Linked DNA regions of Homo sapiens: region 1 is linked to region 2. A link means that fine-mapping ties the variant in region 2 to the expression of a gene that starts in the linked region. Tissue or cell type: whole blood. Region 2 holds a variant in brackets; the other region holds the start of a gene. All regions are shown on one strand. Distances are from middle to middle.

Region 1 (5,000 bases), 180 kb before region 2:
TGACCTCAGGTGATCCACCCGTGTCAGCCTCCCAAAGTGCTGGGATTATAGGTGTGAGCCACTGGGACTGGCCTATTTTCTATTTTAGTTTATCAAAAAGAGCACTCAGAGATAAGAACCCTTTCACAGAGAGTGAGCCTTGGGTAGTGAAATGATACCAGATTTGGAATCAGAAGTCCTGATGCCTGGCACAGGTCTGCCCATGGCTGAGGATGACTCTAGGACAGTCACTTCCTGTCTGGGCCTCAGCTTCTCAGATGTTAAGGCCCGCCATCTCCACCATGTGTCTTTATAGGATGTATAGATAGAGAAGGCCTGTGTTTACCTATTTGCACATTAGCTCTTTGCCTTGGTCTTGACATTTTATTTTTATTTCATCACTTTGTTGCATGTACTGTATTTTTGTAAAAAGATTCAGGGTGTAAATAAATAACACATTCACCATTTCTTCCATAGATCCCAGCTCTCCTGTTGGCTTCGTGCTTGGGGTAGATCTTCTTCACATATTCCCCCTGGAAGGAGCAACTTTTCTGTGCCCTGCTGACGTGACTGACCCGAGAACCTCACAGAGAATCCTCGAGGTGCTTCCTGGCAGGAGAGCAGATGTGATTCTGAGCGACATGGCGCCCAATGCCACAGGGTTCCGGGACCTCGATCATGACAGGCTCATCAGCCTGTGCCTGACCCTTCTCAGCGTGACCCCAGACATCCTGCAACCTGGGGGGACATTCCTTTGTAAAACCTGGGCTGGAAGTCAAAGCCGTCGGTTACAGAGGAGACTGACAGAGGAATTCCAGAATGTAAGGATCATCAAACCTGAAGCCAGCAGGAAAGAGTCATCAGAAGTGTACTTCTTGGCCACACAGTACCACGGAAGGAAGGGCACTGTGAAGCAGTGAGGATTTCTTGTGCCATTTTCATAATGGTCATTAGCTCCTTTTAAGCTAGAAACGTAGCCTGAGCTCCTGAAGAGTTCCTGGGAGATTTGAGCTGATTTTGGAGATGGAGCAGGACAAGTGGGGAGTCTCTCTCTCTCTTTCTCTCTCTCTCTTTTTAACCAAAAAGAGATGACAAAACTAAGTTCAGGGGCCATGGAAAATGAAAAAGTCCGCTATATTGTGATTTGGGAAGAGAAAGTTATCAAGAGAAAGAGGTGAGGATGGAAGGATGGAGAAAAACAGACTGTGGGAAGGATCAGAAGGAATCCGCCGAGGCAGGGATGGGTGTGCCCATGTGTGCCTTGACGGGACTTCATCTTATAGACTGTTAAACTGTCACACACAAACAGGCTTTCCACCCCTGCTCTGAGAGCACCACGCACAGATTTCCAGTTCTTAGTGTGGCTGTTTAAAGTAGAAAATCTGGGGGCTGGGTGAGGCCACTCATGCCTGTAAACCCAGGGCTTTAGAAGGCTGAGGCTGGGGGATTGCTTGAAGTCAGGAGTTCAAGACCAACCTGGGCAACATAGCAACACCCCCCATGTCTACAAAAATGAAAAACCAAAAAGCAAACCAAAAGAAAAATCTGAAATTTCCATCTGGGGATTAACTTCTGTCTTTCTGGTGAACAATATAGCAATTCACGCATTCTTCAAGCAGCAAAAGTTCCCGGAACAATTAGGGAAGACGTATGGTCTGAATTTATCCAGGCAGTGGGTCTGCTTTGGTTTTTGCTGGAAATTTATATCAGTGTCTGGGCTCCCAAGAACATAAATGTAATTGCCAAAGCAAGCAGTGATGTGGTGTGTTTATTTTCTTTTACTCATCTAGGAACTTGACGCAGCTTTATATTTAATAAAATAATAGAGATTGCATTATTTTAAGGTACTTTCATGCTTTGAAGTTTTGTTTTTTTTAAACTGGCTTCCTCAAAGCCATTTCCTGGAGGTGTACTCATCCCTCAAGAAGAGTTTGTTGACTATGATTAAATTCCAAGGACCAGTGGGGGAAGTCTGGAAACCCAGGAATCTCCATCAGGAATCTGGGGCTCTGTCCAGCTCCCCGAAGGAAACTGCGGGTCAGATGTTTTGATTTTTTTTTTTCTTTGAGAAACAGAATCTCACTCTGTCACCCAGGCTGGAGTGCAGTGAAGTGATCTTGGCTCACTGTAAGCTCCACTTCCCGGGTTCACGCCATTCGGCCTCAGCCTCCCGAGTAGCTGGGACTACAGGCGCCCATCACCACGCCCGGCTATTTTTTTTTTTTTTTTTTGTATTTTCAGTAGAGACGGGGTTTCACCGTGTTAGCCAGGATGGTCTCGATCTCCTGACCTCGTGATCCGCCTGCCTCGGCCTCCCAAAGTGCTGGGATTACAGGCGTGAGCCACCGCGCCCGGCCGCCAGATGTTTTGACTTTTCATTTTATTTCTGGTTGCAGTCAGGTTGTTAAGTCCAGGGACTCTTGCCCTACTCCACCTCGTTCTCTTATTCCATTTCATTCCCGGGGCACACAACTTGGAAGTCTTTCTCTGAAAGAAGGAAAATTCATTGCAGACCCTTAGGAACAGCATCTTCTTAGAGGGAAGCCAGGGGCTGGGCAGAGACGGGAGGAGGAGAGGAAGAGAATATGGAAACGAGTAAGGCACACTCTTCTCAGGAAGGCTCCAATTTGAAGGATAGACAAAGGTTACCATAATAATGGTGGGGCCTGACCTCACCCCATTGGATGCTGTGCCCTGGCTTGCAGAGCACTGGGAAGGTAGCCTAGTAGCATAAATTGCATTTCTAGTGGGCCCAGAAAAAAGCAAAATAACGGATTGATTCAAGCTGATACTGAGTAGCAAAATTTTGGGAAGAGTCAACGGTGCAAGTTTGTCCGAGGAGGCTGCCGTGGGCGCGGCTATTCCACACATTACGGCGCGAGGCGAAAGCCTTAGTGGAAGCGCGTCCTGCGCAAAGCCGGGGGGCCCCCGACTGCGCCTTGGCTCAGCCTTCGGTTCCGAGTCCTTTCCGTGCGGAGTCTCCCAGGGGTGGCGGCTCCGGGTGCGGACGCGGAGTCCCCAGGATCAGCCGGTGCGCAGACTCGGTTCTTTACGGCCCGATTGCCACGCAGGTCTCGCGAGAGCGCAGGCGCAAGTGTCGCGATAAATGGGCGCCGGCGGAGCGGAGGGAGATCCGAGCGGCGGCGGCAAGCTGGCTGCGAGCGGCTGAGGTAAGCGGCCCGGCTCGCGCGGGCGGCGGGGTCCCGGGGTCCCGGGGGTCCCGGGAATGGCAAGGGAGGGGCCGAGGGCCCGGACCGGGTGTGCTCGCCAGGGTGGGGCACAACGACCCAGACCCCGTGCCTCAGGACCCCGCGCCCGCCCCGTCTCCCATGGGCGCGCTCTCCTCTCTGTGCTCTCCCCTCCTCTCCCCACTCCCCTGTCCCCACTCCCCCTTTGGGCTGTGCTGGGGACAGCGGGCCCCTCGCCTGGGTCTCCGCAGCCGTCCCTTGTGCCAGGGCGGGCGGCCGAGGGGCGCGTGCTCGTGGTCCCAGCCCCGGGGTCCCGCTGCCTACCGTGTGGGTCCCCGGGCTAGGGTGCCGGCGCGCCGAGGAAGGGGCCTGAGCTGGCGCCTGGTGGAGAAGTCGGGGCTGCAGGGGCTCTTGGCATCCTGGTGGCTCGCGCCGGTCCGCTCTCAGGAAGGGGGCGTGTGGGCCCGGTTTCCCCTCGGGGATGGCAAGGGCCACCCTGATCTCGTTTGGGCAATGGAGGAATTGGGCTGTGGAGCCTCCTTCCAGGCGGGCCTGCCTCTGCGGGGCTGGCAGCCTGGGGAGCTCAGGCCTCTGCTTGCACCAGGCCAAGGTTCTTGTTAAATGGAAACTCAGAAACTGTGCAGCTGCAGAAGTTCTACCTTTGGCTTTTAAACGCGCTTGGCTGTTCCCTAGTTGTGGCTGGTGGGCCGGCCTGCCATGAGCCCATAGTAAGCGCCGGTGTTGGGGGTGCAAAGTTCTTTACTGCGGTTTGTCTTCAGCCTTCCAAAGCCAGACAGACCCAAGTTCCAATCTCCGTTCTGTAACTTTTTGAAGCTTCGGTTTCATCATCTCTAGAATCTGTGTAAAAAGACCTAATTCACCACCCTGTTGAGACTGAGCTTACAAATATAGTGCTGGTCAACCTGCAGCCGTATTCCCATCATCTAGCGGTGGAAGACTTGAGGGATATTGGCCCCGTTCCCCACAACTTTGCAAGTAGATTTCACTGTCATGAGTTTACAGATGAGGAAACTGAAGTTCAAGAAGTCTCGGTGCTCGGAAATGTCAGATACCTTTCTTTCTGATACCTAGTTGAAAATAGTAGTAGTACTTATTAATGTCACTAGAAATAAACAATGAAAATGAGCACAGCTGTGATGATCATCATCTTTACTGTCACTGTTGCATGCCTCGTTTCTGATTCCCAGAGGCCAGATTTTTTTTTTAATTAATTATTATTATTTTTTGAAACGGAGTCTTGCTCTGGCACCCAGGCTGGAATGCAGTGGCGCGATCTCAGTTCACTGCAACCTCCATCTCCTGGGTTCAAGAAAATCTCCTGTCCCAGCCTCCGGAGTAGCTGGGATTACAGGTGCACGCCACCACATCTGGCTTTAGTAGAGATGGGGTTTCACCATGTTGGCCAGGCTGGTCTCGAACTCCTGACCTGTGGTGATCTGCCCATCTTGGCCTCACAAAGTGCTGGGATTACAGGCATGAGCAACAGTGCCTGGCTTATGTTTATTTATTTATTTATTCATTCATTTATTTATTTTGAGACACTGTCTCACCCCGTTACCCAGGCTGGAGTGCAGTGGTGCGGTCTCAGGTCACTGCAACCTCTGCCTCCCAGTTTCAAGCGATTCTTGTGCCACAGCCTCCTGAGTAGCTGGGATTACAGGCGCACACCACCACACCCGGCTAGTTTTTGTATTTTATTAGAGGTGGGGTTTTGCCATGTTGGCCATTCTGGTCTTGAACTCCGGACCTGCCTCCGCCTCCCGAAGTGCTGGGATTAGAGGCGTGAACCACCCTGCCTGGGCAAGAGGCCAG
Region 2 (5,258 bases):
CTGGGGCACCCCCATAACCCGTGTCCCCAGGCCCTGGCTGGAACGTGCTGTGCGGGGAAGATGGGCCCCACCTCTGCAGCCTCCTCTGCTTCCCCGTTGCTTTCCTGCCGCCCGCCAGGGCCTTGGGGCCTTCACACAGCTTCTCTACTTCCCGGAACCCAGATCATCCCCGGCGTCCGGCTCATAGCATTGAGGCAGGCCCTTTTCTCCCTTGTTCACCGGCGGCTGGCACAGTTCCTTGCATACAGCAGGCTCTGAGTAAATGCCTGGTGAATATTGGACTCCTTCACCTACAGGAGGTGCTGAGGCCTTTGGAGTGGCCAGGGAGCAGCTCTCCTGCCTCTGCCTCACCTGCCCTGTGCTCTGCCCCCGCCCGGAGGACTCTTGGTCCCAGCCTCACCGTCTGCATGGGCCTCCGCGGCCCCCAAACTCACCGGTTTTCAGGAAGGGCCTGCTACCAGGTAGCAGATCCCGAGGCTTCTGCTTCTGATGCCTGAGCTAATGTCAGCAATGTGGAAGAGGGTGTTACTTGCTTTCAACTTTCCCAACAACCAAAGTCGCAAGACGTGTAGCTGTCAGTGGCAGAGCAGGAGGGTAGGCAGTGGCTGGGAGCAGGTGCCAGGGCAGGGACGGCTCGGCCTTCAGATGCAGGCACTGGAGGCGGCACCCACCCGTTCCCTCCTCAGGCTGGTGGAGGAGCCTCCGCTGTCCCGGGACTTGGGGCAGCTCTCCCTTCTGGATTTCCTCCTCCCACATGTCCTGCTGGGGACACATGGCTTCCTATCTCCCCATGGCCCCGGAGGTCCAGCGCCTCCCTCCCCCATGCTCCAGGCTGGGGCCCCAGCTCCCTCCCGGTTCCTCTGTCTGTTCCGGGCAGCAGTCTGTGGCGCCAGGGCCATGCCCATGCCAGCTGCCGTAGCTGTGTCCCAGCTGTTTGCTCCAGGTTTATTTTGATGGTGTACCCCTTTATAAAAACTGTGGAATTTGCACACTGATACGTGCATATTTGTTTAAAAAGGATAGGTATGACCTGCGGCCAATAATGAACACACCCATTTATTTGTAAGATATAAGGACTTATAAACGTAAGTAGGGTTTCCACTGTATACCTAGGCCCCAGGGAGCTGTCAGGTGCCCTCCCTGGGCACCGTGCCCGGGCCCCAGTGAGTGTCCAGCCCCCTCCCTGCCTGCTGTGCCTGGGCCCTAGTGAGCTGTCCGGCGCCCTCCCTGCCTGCTGTGCCTGGGCCCTAGTGAGCTGTCCGGCGCCCTCCTGGGTGCTGTTGCTTGCTGTCTGTTGGGCATTCTGTCTGTGTGGTCTTCCTGAGGCTGTTACCAACTGTGGTGGCGGCAGGCCTGGGGCTCCTACTACGCCGCTGCCTGTGCTCTGTTGCTCACATGAAGGGGCCAGGGAAGCCTGTTGGCATATGGAGTCATGCCATGGCTGGCTGTGGCGGAGCTGTGGCTGTGCGCGTGGCGAGGACGATAGGGTTCTGCCCTTGTCCGTGGTCACCCTGCTCCTGCTCTCGCTTCTCTGAGGCCAGCCCCTCCTCTCTGATGTGTGCGGAGCGTGGGTCTTGGCCTGCCGGGGGCTCCTTCGTGGAATGCAGGGGGTGCACAGGTGTTGACTCTGCATGAATGGTTGTCTTTCCGCCTGGCTGTTTCCCTGCCTGACGCCCCTGTAAACATCCATTCCCAACACGCTTCCCAGAGGACGCTTGCCCTTGGAGTACTCCTAACAAAAGACTTCCCAGTGAAATCAGTTTCTGGCACCCCATGTGGTATAGCCTGACACGGCACCTGCTGCTCAGCTTGTCCATGGCTCTGAGGAGCCCTCAGGGGCCCCAGGCAGCTGGTGGGGGATGGGGTTGGGGGGTGGACAGCAAGGTGACCTGGCGGGCGCAGGGCAGCTGGTGGGGGTGGTGGGGGGTGGAAAGCAAGGTGACCCAGTAGGCACAGCGCAGCTGGTGGGGGGTTGGGGGAGGTAGGGGACAGCGAGGTGACCCGGCAGGCGCAGGGCAGCTGGTGGGGGGGTGGGGGAGGTGGGGGACAGCAAGGTGACCCGGCGGATGCAGGGAAGGCCCAGTCTTCATGTGCGGTTTCAATGTCTCGTTCCTGGGCTTTTCTGCATTAAGTGTGAGTTTCTAACATACCACGTTGAAACGTCTTGGATCTTGCCTGCTGAGCCACGTGGCTCTTCCTGAAGGACAAGGTCAGCGCCCCCCTCGCCACCACTTCATCCAGATCCCAGGAGCCCCTTCTGTCCTGTAGGCCAAGGCTCCACAGCACCACGTGGGTTATGGACGAGAAACCTGGAGTGTCCTGCTAGGAGAGAGGCTGTGGAATTCCCAGTCCCCCTCAGCTTTGGAGGTTTATACCAGAGAGACCGAGGCTTAGAGAGGAGCCCAGGGAGGCTCCTCCAGTGCCCAGGCCAGGCATCATCCAGCTGGCACAGGTGGCTTTAGCCCAGCCTCGGGGGGACACAAGCAGGGCCTGCAGGGTGTCTGGGAAGGGCTGGAGGGACCAGGCCCGGAACCTTGTCCTGCCTACCCAGGCTTTGGCCTGACATTGTCCTTGTTTGTGCTTTAAAATCCCCTATCCTGTTTGGTAGAGAAACATGCTCTCTTTAAACTCAGTTTCGAAGAAATCCAAATCTTTGAATAACCTTGATCTTGAAAGGAAAGGAAGTTAGCTGCAGGTGAAAATTGATGGTCATGCTCAAAGGCATGGTTCCCTGCCAAGGAAGCCTCTTGAGTCTTTCTACTAAAAATAGCTGCAGCATCCTGGTGGTGGTGTCTGAACCCTCTCTAGGCCCCTCCTGGAGACATTCAGAGATGTTAAAGGTGACAGCCAGCCTCACCTGGCCGTTCCGCACAGGTGTGTTTGCTCCTGGCCTGTGAGGCACAGGTGGGTGGGCCTGCTGAGGACTGAGCCGCCCTCGGGGGTACTGGGCTGCTCCCTCCGCAGCCTCTGCCCCTTCAGTTGTCCTTGGTGTCACGGCACACCCAAGAGCCTTGTAAGTTCCCTGCACCACAGTCTGGGTGGGTGCCTGGGTCCCTGTGTCCATGGTCCTGGGAGAGGTCCCTGGCCTCAGTCAGAAGGTGTGAAG[T/C]GTCTGGACTTTCTCCAGGCCGGTGATAGGCCACTGTTGGCTTGTGGTCTCCATGGTTCTGTGGGTGCTTCAACGGAGCTGCCAGAAAGGTCAAGCCACAGCCTGACACCAGCCAGAGTGGAGGCGGCCCAGGAACCCCCTGGCTCACCACCCTCAGCCTGGTGCTTCCGTCTGCCCGTGTGGGTGTGGACATGGGTCTGAGGCACTGGCTAGGGGATTCCCTGCTTCCAGCAGGCGCGTGAGGTTCCATCCTGGTCTCTGGTTTCTGGTCTGGCCTCATACCTGGCTTAGCTCTCGTAGGAGTGCAACAGGTGGAAGGGGCGGTGATGCCCGCAGATGCTGGGTGAGGTGCCCCGTGAACGTGTGGTCTGGTGCCCGCAGACGCTGGGTGAGGTGCCCCGTGAACGTGTGGTCTGGTGCCCGCAGACGCTGGGTGAGGTGCCCCATGAACGTGTGGTCTGGTGCCCGCAGACGCTGGGTGAGGTGCCCCGTGAACGTGTGGTCTGGTGCCCGCAGACGCTGGGTGAGGTGCCCCGTGAACGTGTGGTCTGGTGTCCGCAGACGCTGGGTGAGGTGCCCTGTGAACGTGTGGTCTGGTGCCCGCAGACGTTGGGTGAGGTTCCTTGTGAACGTGTGGTCTGGTGTCCGCAGATGTTGGGTGAGGTGCCCTGTGAACGTGTGGTCTGGTGCCTGCAGACGTTGGGTGAGGTGCCCTGTGAACGTGTGGTCTGGTGCCCGCAGATGGTGCCAGCAGATGTTGGATGAGGTGCCCTGTGAACCTGTGGTCTGGTGCCTGCAGACATTGGATGAGGTGCCCTGGGAATTACAGTGCTCGATAGTCCTCCTGGACACTGGTGCTGATGAAGCGAGTCTGGCCACCCACGCCAGGCAGTGCCCAGTGCCCCTTGGGTGGCTCCTGCCCTCCAGCAAGACATGGGGATGCTGCTGGACCCAGGTGTCTGTGAGGTCCAGGCACAGATCTTGCTTCTGCAGGAGGCCCCTGGGCGGACTAGGTGAGTCCTTCCTCCTACCGCCTCTTTGAAAATCTGTGTGTGTTTAAACTAAATTTCTTGAGTGCCATCAGAAGGCCCGTGAGCTGGTGAGCTGCCCCCGAGCCTTTTGCCACCCATGGTGGGCATGAGCCACCTACTGAGTCGGCTCCGAGTCAGCAGAGGCCATGGAGTGGGGGCCCCCACTGTGCAGGGAGAGGGTCTGACCCTGGGCGGGGCACCGGGAAGGGAGGTGGAGGCCTGAGGCCAGCCCTGCTGGAATTCCTCTCTTCTAGGGGGAGGAAGCCTAGGAGCTGGAATCAGAAAACCTGTTAGAACCTGAGCTCTGTCACTCTCTCACTTGTGCCTGGCGCCAGCTCCCTTTCCCTCTCTTTGCCTTTGCTTCCTCTCTGGAAGAATGAAGCATGCACGCCTCACCCCATCTGCACGGGGAGCCGATTCACAGATTACATGAGGGAATGCTTTGAAAATATTTTTAAATTGTAATGTTCAAATATATGTGTGAGGTAGTTCATCATCAACTCACTCAACAAACATATGGTTAGTTCTATTCTAAGGTGATGTGTGTTCCTAAAAGTCACCCTGCTACACAAAATCACATTAAAAATAAGATGGGACCCTGATGAAAATGGCAGCATGGTTGACGCGGTCAGTGGCTGGACACAGGCAAGTGTGACAATCGGCACAGCTCTTCGCCTCGAGAAGGCCTGGCGCTGGCTTGGGGAAGTGGGAGTGGTGGCTTGTGAGTCACTGTGGAGTGGGGAGAGCACCTGAAGCTGGAGGGGTGTGGCACAGGGGGCTCAGCCAGGCTCGGGAGGCTCCCATCACAGCTCCGTTCAGCTGAGTGCGGTTTTCTGCATTCGTCTTGGAGGAGGTTCTTCACAGAGGGGCGGAGGGGGACTTTTTGGCCATCACTCAACATCCTATGGGACAGCCCCTTCCTGGCTGACCCACCTGCCTGCCCTGTGCCAGGCCTTATGCAGTGTGGTTGATGCTTATTACCATTCATCAAATTTATTTCCTGACAAATCCTATGTTAAATACCTGGCATGGGACCTGCAGTGAGTGGGCATTCGATGTATAGCGGTCACTGCTGGCATTCGTCAGAGTAACTTCTCATTTCATTAACATCCCTCTAATCA

Evidence for each region. PIP is the estimated chance that this variant, and not a neighbour inherited with it, causes the effect.
Region 1: it holds the start of MAD1L1, and the variant in region 2 is fine-mapped to the expression of MAD1L1 in whole blood (INTERVAL, PIP above 0.99).

What each region holds. Positions count from the first base shown.
Region 1 is chr7:2,231,021-2,236,020 of GRCh38, reverse strand. It overlaps MAD1L1 (mitotic arrest deficient 1 like 1), which reads left to right and starts at 3,076. Exons shown (of 19, transcript NM_001013836.2): 1 at 3,076-3,149. It overlaps MRM2 (mitochondrial rRNA methyltransferase 2), which reads left to right. Exons shown (of 3, transcript NM_013393.3): 3 at 457-1,826. The coding sequence ends at 899. RefSeq lists enhancers at 1,691-2,223, 2,958-3,087, 2,873-3,167 and silencers at 2,802-3,180, 3,158-3,577.
Region 2 is chr7:2,048,416-2,053,673 of GRCh38, reverse strand. The region is part of intron 12 of MAD1L1 (mitotic arrest deficient 1 like 1); the gene reads left to right. Among named protein-coding and RNA genes, the nearest start is that of SNORA114, 38 kb to the left of the region's middle. RefSeq lists an enhancer at 3,605-4,208. The variant T/C (reference allele first, on the strand shown) is at 3,107.